2 separate regions of the Homo sapiens genome follow, and region 2 is linked to region 1. The links come from fine-mapping of genetic effects on gene expression. Tissue or cell type: prefrontal cortex. Region 1 holds a variant in brackets; the other region holds the start of a gene. All regions are shown on one strand. Distances are from middle to middle.

What was found. PIP is the estimated chance that this variant, and not a neighbour inherited with it, causes the effect.
Region 2: it holds the start of CCDC13, and the variant in region 1 is the best candidate, but not a certain one, in a credible set for the expression of CCDC13 in prefrontal cortex (ROSMAP, PIP 0.51).

What each region holds. Positions count from the first base shown.
Region 1 is chr3:42,794,047-42,798,270 of GRCh38, reverse strand. It overlaps HIGD1A (HIG1 hypoxia inducible domain family member 1A), which reads left to right. Exons shown (of 4, transcript NM_014056.4): 2 at 3,996-4,114. The coding sequence starts at 4,018. Among named protein-coding and RNA genes, the nearest start is that of HIGD1A, 8.3 kb to the left of the region's middle. The variant T/A (reference allele first, on the strand shown) is at 1,824.
Region 2 is chr3:42,770,905-42,775,038 of GRCh38, reverse strand. CCDC13 (coiled-coil domain containing 13) reads left to right here and starts at 1,786. Exons shown (of 16, transcript NM_144719.4): 1 at 1,786-1,863. CCDC13-AS2 (CCDC13 antisense RNA 2) reads right to left here. Exons shown (of 2, transcript NR_122070.1): 1 at 3,962-4,134; 2 at 1,404-1,834. RefSeq lists an enhancer at 1,606-1,775 and a silencer at 1,906-2,065.

The DNA.
Region 1 (4,224 bases):
GCCGACACCCCCACCTCCCTCCCGGACGGGGCGGCTGGCCGGGCGGGGGGCCGACCCCCCCACCTCCCTCCCGGACGGGGCGGCTGGCCGGGCAGAGGGGCTCCTCACTTCCCAGTAGGGGCGGCCGGGCAGAGGCGCCCCTCACCTCCCAGACGGGGCGGCTGGCCGGGCGGAGGGCTGACCCCCCCACCTCCCTCCCGGACGGGGCGGCTGGCCGGGCAGAGGGGCTCCTCACTTCCCAGTAGGGGCGGCCGGGCAGAGGCGCCCCTCACCTCCCGGACCGGGCGGCTGGCCGGGCGGGGGGCTGACCCCCCCACCTCCCTCCCGGATGGCACGGCTGGCCGGGCGGGGGGCTGACCCCCCACCTCCCTCCCGGATGGGGCGGCTGGCCGGGCGGGGGGCTGACCCCCCCTCACCTCCCTCCCGGACGGGGTGGCTGCCGGGCGGAGATGCTCCTCACTTCCCAGATGGGGTGGCTGCTGGGCGGAGAGGCTCCTCACTTCTCAGACGGGGCAGCTGCCGGGCGGAGGGGCTCCTCACTTCTCAGACGGGGTGGTTGCCAGGCAGAGGGTCTCCTCACTTCTCAGACGGGGCGGCCGGGCAGAGACGCTCCTCACCTCCCAGACGGGGTCTCGGCCGGGCAGAGGCGCTCCTCACATCCCAGATGGGGCGGTGGGGCAGAGGCGCTCCCCACATCTCAGACGATGGGCGGCCGGGCAGAGACGCTCCTCACTTCCTAGATGTGATGGCGGCTGGGAAGAGGCGCTCCTCACTTCCTAGATGGGATGGCGGCCGGGCGGAGACGCTCCTCACTTCCCAGACTGGGCGGCCGGGCAGAGGGGCTCCTCACATCCCAGACGATGGGCGGCCAGGCAGAGACACTCCTCACTTCCCAGACGGGGTGGCGGCCGGGCAGAGGCTGCAATCTCGGCACTTTGGGAGGCCAAGGCAGGCGGCTGGGAGGTGGAGGTTGTAGTGAGCCGAGATCACGCCACTGCACTCCAGCCTGGGCACCACTGAGCACTGAGTGAACGAGACTCCGTCTGCAATCCCGGCACCTCGGGAGGCCGAGGTTGGCGGATCACTCGCGGTTAGGGGCTGGAGACCGGCCCGGCCAACACAGCGAAACCCCGTCTCCACCAAAACCAGTCAGGCGTGGCGGCGCGTGCCTGCAATCGCAGGCACTCGGCAGGCTGAGGCAGGAGAATCAGGCAGGGAGGTTGCAGTGAGCCGAGATGGCAGCAGTACAGTCCAGCTTCGGCTCCGCATGAGAGGGAGACCGTGGGGAGAGGGAGACGGAGACGGAGACGGAGACGGAGACGGAGAAGGAGGGAGAGGGAGAGGGAGACGGAGAGGGAGACGGAGAGGGAGAGGGAGAGGGAGAGGGACGGAAGTTATAAGATTCTAACCCTCCCTAAAATGCTCCTAAGATCAGTGCTTGAGATATTTTGCAGACCCTGCACTTGATAGACCAACTGGCACCACCCAGATCAATAAACTGGCTCGTCTGATCTTATGTCCCCTACCTAGGAACTGACTCAGCACAAGAGGACAGCTTCAACTTCCCATTTCATCTCCAACCCAACCAATCAGCACTCTGTTCTCTGGCCTTCCCCCACCCACCAAATTATCCTTAAAAACTGATCCCTGAATGCTCCAAGAGACTGATTTGACTAATAATAAAAATCCTGGTCTCCCACACAGCTGGCTTTGGGTGAATTGCTCTTTCTCTATTGCAATTCCCCTGTCTTGGTAAATCAGCTCTGTCTAGCCAGCGGGCAAGGTGAACCTGTTTGGCGGTTACATGATTTCTCTTTTTTTTT[T/A]AAAAAAAAAAACAACAACTAATTTTTGAACGATTAATTACTTTAGTGTTTATATTGTATTATTCAGATATATAGTGAGTATCTTGAACCTTGAGCTTATTGAACCTTATATATAATAAAGCTCATTACTTAGGAGTTTATTCAGTTAAGAAGTAATGGAGTACAAAAAGAAGGTTTAAGTCCAATCTAAATTTTCTTTTATTTAGCTAAGATTTTCTTCTATGTCAGATGACAGTTGAGTCTTCTCAATGAAGGTGAGGCTTATAGGGATGAATTCACTTTCTAAACTAAGCACACCACCCCCTCCGGAGTTGCATTTTTGTTGAGGACCTTAACTGCCACTGACTCCCCTTGAGTAGCAAGGTGTTGAATGAGAGGTACTTTTATCAAAGGGAGCATAATGCACATGAAAAACCCAGAAGTGAAAGTAAGATTTTATATGGGTGTTAGGATGGGCATAGACTTTTAAGTTTATTGTAATTGACACTAATTAGAGACTTGTATGCTTACACTATGCTTCAGGCCCTTATTTTATCTGTGAGTAAAGTTTATTGCAATTCAAAATAGTTCAGTGAAGAAAGTATACTTTGTTATTGTGGCTAAAATGAAATAGCATTTGTTAATGCCTCATTGTGATAAAAGGGCTATTCACGGAGATGACTGAAAAGGAGGAAAGGAGCCTTTGATCCCTGTGATAATGAAAATGAATCCTTTTTTTTTTTTTCCTATCCCCTTACTCATACACTATCAGGCTAGATCTTGCCTTTGGGATACCATTTAAAGGAATTATAAAAAGAGGGTAGAGTTTTAAAAGGAAGCCTAGGGGATATAAGGTATGTAAATGAAGGCAGATCTGAAGCTTAGAAGATATTAAGAAGACCCTGAGGGTAATTCAGTTTTGTGCTGCAGTGATGTTAAAAGGTGCTAATCATAGGGCCAGGTGTGGTAGCTCATGCCTGTAATCCCAACACTGGGAGGCAGGTGGATCACCTGAGGTCAGGAGTTCGAGACCAGCCTGGTCAAGATGGTGAAACCCCATCTCTACTAAAAATACAAAAAAAATTAGCCAGGCATGGTGGCAGGCACTTCTAATCCCAGGTATTTGGGAGGCTGAGGCAGGAGAATCACTTGAACCTGGGAGGCAGAGGTTGCAGTGAACCAAGACTACGCCATTGCACTCCAGCCTGGGCAACAAGAACGAAACTCCATCTCAAAAAAAAAAAAAAAAGCTAATCATAAGCTGGCACAGTGGCTCACACCTGTAATCCCAGCAGTTTGGGAGGCTGAGGTGGGTGGATCACGTGAGGTCAGGAGTGAAACCCTGTCTCTACTAAAGAATACAAAAAAATTAGGCACGGTGGTGTGTGCCAAATGGAGGTTGCAGTGAGCCGAGATCGTGCCACTGCACTCCACCCTGGGCAACAGAGCAAGACTCAGTCTCAAAAAAGAAAAAAAACTAATCATAGGTCATTAAAAAAATCTAAAAGGCTATGAAGGAGACATTTCTACCAATATTTAAAATAAAAGCTTTGTTCTTAAAATGAGTAAATAATGAGCTAGGTAGAAACTTTGGCTATTCAGAATAATCTTTTCCCCAGAGGCAACCACCATGGATAACAGATTACTGTAATAGACTGGAAACTAATCTGAAGTGAAAATTGAAGCAAGGAAGCACATTGGAATAAATAAATCAGCAGTTGAAAGCAATAAAGACTGCATTTAACTACACCGAAAAGTGCTAAGTAGGATTTCCAACATGATATTGAAGGTTCAATAGGAGTTGTCAGTTTGGTTTGAGTAACTTAAAATTGTCAAGTTAAATAGTTGATTAAGGATGAAGATAGCCAGAAAATTAGTAGCTACTATTTTAATTGATAAAAGTAACATCAATTTAAAATTTTTCACTATTTTTAATTAACATGGTGCTAAAAATGAATGGGTTGTACAGGGGAAACGGCAAAATAATAGGGGGAATAAGTGTATACAACTCTCCCTTGAGAGTGACTGTACATTAAAAATACAGTTAATTTCTAAAAATATTTTTTAACTTTAGGATTATGGATAACATATACTAAGATTCTCATGGAAGTTAGGAATATTTTAAATACATCCAGATATTTAATAATGTTCAGATGCTTTTAATTACAGAACCTCATAGAAATTCTTTCTCAGGGAGATTCTTCAAGCAATCACTATGTCAACAGACACAGGTGTTTCCCTTCCTTCATATGAGGAAGATCAGGGATCAAAACTCATTCGAAAAGCTAAAGAGGCACCATTCGTACCCGTTGGTAAGTTTGACTGACATTTTAGTAGTCTTGAATATGGTAGAGCCGTGATAATTTGTTCATTTAGCAATATCCTGAAAGAATGTATTTTCCATTTTTTTCTTATGTTGAAA
Region 2 (4,134 bases), 23 kb after region 1:
ACATCTGTATACTGTACATGAGGAAATACTGGTGACCCAGATTGGATTCGCCAGCTTCTTGGATGATAAAATGTCAAGCTTATAAACTAAAGAAAATTCTCAAAAGAATTTTGGGCAGAAAAAAAAAATGGCATGAGAGCCTTAGTGGTGACCGTGGAAAAGTAACAAACCTAGAGGAAAATCATCCCTGCTTTTTAAAAAATGGGTTACTGCAAAAATGATATCCTCGTCAAAAATAATCCTTGGATTGCTGGAGCAAATGTTACCCCTTTCCCAAACTTTCTAATACATACATTCTAGAATGTCGGTTCTGAAATTCTCTTGCATCCTTAATTTTCTCACAGCATGTTCTTATTTTAATGAAAACCTGGCTTTCTGCTAGGATCCATGCTTTCCAGAAGCCCTCTAAGTAGACCTGGCTATTCCTTTTCCTATGCCACATAGTCCCATCGTGGTCATGAGGCAAACGAATGATACTCCCCACTACACACACCATTTAAAAAAAACCCTAATCCTTTGAGGCTCACATCTACCTGAATCCTACTCTTTATCCTGTCTCTCTTTGCTGCCACCTGTATATTATACGTCTCCCACCCTCAGCTCACCAGGCAGCAATTGGAGACCAACGGGAAAGATCCATTTTTCCTTTATCAGGAAACTTCGGGTTTATACCTGCAGTGCTGATGGCAGTCTAGTGCCGTATCTTATGTATGCATGTCTATGGGATGGGTATTCATTCACCTTATGAGGAAAAAAAATAGAAAAACAACTGCCAAGGTTTTCAAATTATGAAGTCCTGGATAAATATTTGGGCAGGAGCTGTGGCTCACGCCTGTAATCCCGGCACTTTAGGAGGCCAAGGTGGGCGGATCACCTGAGGTCAGGAGTTCAAGACCAGCCTGGTCAACATGGTGAAACCCCGTCTCCACTAAAAATAAAAAAATTAGCCAGGTGTGGTGGCGGGTGCCTGTAATCCCAGCTACTCAGGAGGCTGAGGCAGGAGAATCGCTTGAACCTGGGAAATGGAGGTTGCAATGAGCTGAGATCGCACCACTGCACTCCAGCCTGGGCGACACAGCGAGACTCTATCATAGATAGATAGATAGATTAGATAGATAGATAGATAGAAAGAAATCTCCCTTGAATCATCTTTCCTAGAAATTTGCCTCCCACCCCCATATTGCCCTGAAATATAGTAGTGTCTTACATTGGAAGGTGCCATTTAAAAAAAAAAAAACAAGTATTTTCCTTTATGAAAATAAACGATGTTCATTATTTTAAAAATTCTCTAAAGTGTAAAAATAAAAACACAGCACTGCTATTCCACCACCCAAATATAACCACTTTTAATATTTCTATTTCGGTCTTGTTTTAGTGCCTAGTTTGAAATAAACACAACTTTATTTATTTAGCATTGCTATATTGCGTCCTGCTTCCTTCACTCACCATCATAACATGGCCTTTCCCCACACTGTTTTACATTTTTCAAATATATCTGAATGGCTACTTTAAATTTCATGGTGAGATCGTTCGCTTTTTAACTCCCCAACAGGAGAGCGGAATGGGCATCTCTGTGCAGAACGTTTGGTCCACAAAACTTTTTTAAAAATATACTCCAGAAGATTTAAAATCTCCAGCGCACTCGAGATCGTGCTCGCTTGGATCCAGCCCAGCGCGCCATCAGCGCCTCTGTCACTTTCAGAACTCTTGGCGCCCCCTCGGCCCCCGTAGAGTAGCGTTGAAAACGCGCAAGTGACGTCGCTTGTTTCCCTGGTGACGGTTGCCAGGGCAGCGCGTGTCGGCGTCCGGAGGAGGTGACCTAGCCGCCGCGGTCCTAGAAGGGAGAAGTGGAGAGAGACCGCTGTAAGTGCCGGGGAGAGCGGAAGGGCCCGGGCCGGAGCTGGGAAAGCCCGCAGCTGCCGGGGGCGCGGAACCGAGCCCGAGCGCAACCCCAGCCCGAGCGCGCTGCCACTGGCCGGGCGCTCACCGCGTGCTGGGCGCCCAGCGAGGACTCTTCCCCTTCGTCCTTTGAATCTTCACACACAGCCCTCTTCTAACCCAGGCAGACGCTTATTTTCCATGCAGTACATGGGTTAATGAGGCGCAGAGGGTGGGTCGCCTGCCCCAAAGTCATAGCGTAGATGGCACAGTCAGAACTCGAACTCAGGTCCGCCTGACAAGCGCTGTTTGCTGGGCCTCTGCCACTGGGCCCTCTCGCACCGCACTGAAAGATGCGACCCGACGGCGTGCACTTCCGCATCTCCCAGTTCCCCTTCCAGGCCCAGCCCCCACAGGACTGGGGACTCGCAAGAGGGAGTTCCCCTCCAAGCCCGGAGTCCAGCCCTGAGAACCAGAGCATCACCCCGCTCCCATCCCAAACCCATCCCTACGAAGATGCTAGCAGTGCACAGAGCGCCAAACTAGGCATCCGTGGGCGGCCTCCCCACACCTCCAGGCCCCTAGACTGTTGTTGAGAATACTCGAAAAGAACACAGTAAAAGAAAAGAAGAAAGAGAAGGAGAGGGGAAGAGAAAAACAATGAAAAAAGTGGCAGGCCGATGGGGCAAGGGGTCTCAATCCTTCCTCACTGGTCCCTGTCACCTATGGTCCCATATCCTGTGGGATCTTGCTTCCTCATAGGACTCCAGAGTGCATGCCACTCTTCCTACTCCCTGGCTCTAAGTCCTACCTGAGCCAAGAGTTCTTTCCATGCAGCTCTAGCCTTTACTTTATTTTTTTTATTATTACTTTTTTTTTTTTTTTTTTTTTTTGACGGAGTCTCGCTCTATCGCCCAGGCTGGAGTGCAGTAGCGCGATCTTGGCTCATTGCAACCTCTGCCTCCCAGGTTCAAGCGATTCTCCTGCCTTGGGCTCGAGTAGCTGGGATTACAGGCGCCCGCCACCATGCCTGGCTAATTTTGGTATTTTTAGTAGAGATGGGGTTTCACCATGTTGGCCAGGCTGGTCTCAAACTCCTGACCTCAGGTGATCCACCCACCTCAGCCTCCCAAAGTTTTGGGATTACACGCATGAGCCACCACGCCCGGCTTAGCCTTTACTTTTAAAAGAAAATAGACTTAAAGCAGATTTTTAGAAGCATTAAACAAAAAACAGTTCCTTTATGTATTCCGTATTCCCATTTCCTCTGTTGTTAACATCTTACACATTGCATTGGTGTGGTACATTTGTTATCATTGATACAACTATACTGGTATGTTATTACTAACTAAAGTCCATAGTTTACATTAGAGTTCATCTGTTGTTGTTGTTGCTGCTGCTGTATTGAGACAGGGTCTCACTTTGTCACCCAGGCTGGAGTGCGGTGGCATGATCATGGCTCACAGTAGCCTCCAACCCCTGGGCTCAAGCAATCCTCCCACCTCAGCCTCCTGAGTAACTGGGAACACAGGCACATGCCACCATGCCCAGCTAATTTTTTTATTTTTTGTAAAGCTATGGTCTTGCTATGTTGCCCAAGCTGGTCTCAAACTCCTGGCCTCAAGTGGTCCTCCCACCTTGGCTTCGTAGAGTGTTGAGATTACAGGTGTGAGTCATCACACCTGGCCAGTGTTCATTGCTTAAGGTTGCACAGGTCTACAAGTTTTGCTAAATGTGTAATGCTGTGTATCCACCAGTAAAGTATACAGAACAGTTTCACCTCCCCAAAAACCCCCTAGGCTTTACTGTTCATTGTTCCTTCCCACCAACCCCTGGAAACCACTGATATTTTTCATTTAGAAGGGATTTACAATCACTGGTATCTTTTACTTCTCTGTAATTTTGCCTTTTTCAGAATATTATACAGTTTGCAATTATACAGCATGTAGCCTTTTCAGACCGGCTTCTTCACTTAACAATACACATTTAGGTTTCTTTCATGTCTTTTCGTGGCGTGATAGCTCATTTCTTTTCATCACTGAATAATATTCACCGGTATGAGTGTACCAGGTTATCTACTCACCTATTGAAGTACATCTTGTTTTTTTCTCATTTTTGGTAATTATGAATAAAGTTATTGAGTCCAGAATTGTGGGTTCTTGGTCTCACTGACTTCAAGAACAAAGCCGCAGACCCTCGCGGTGAGTGTTATTACAGTTCTTAAAGGTGGCGTGTCTGGAGTTTGTTTCTTCCTTC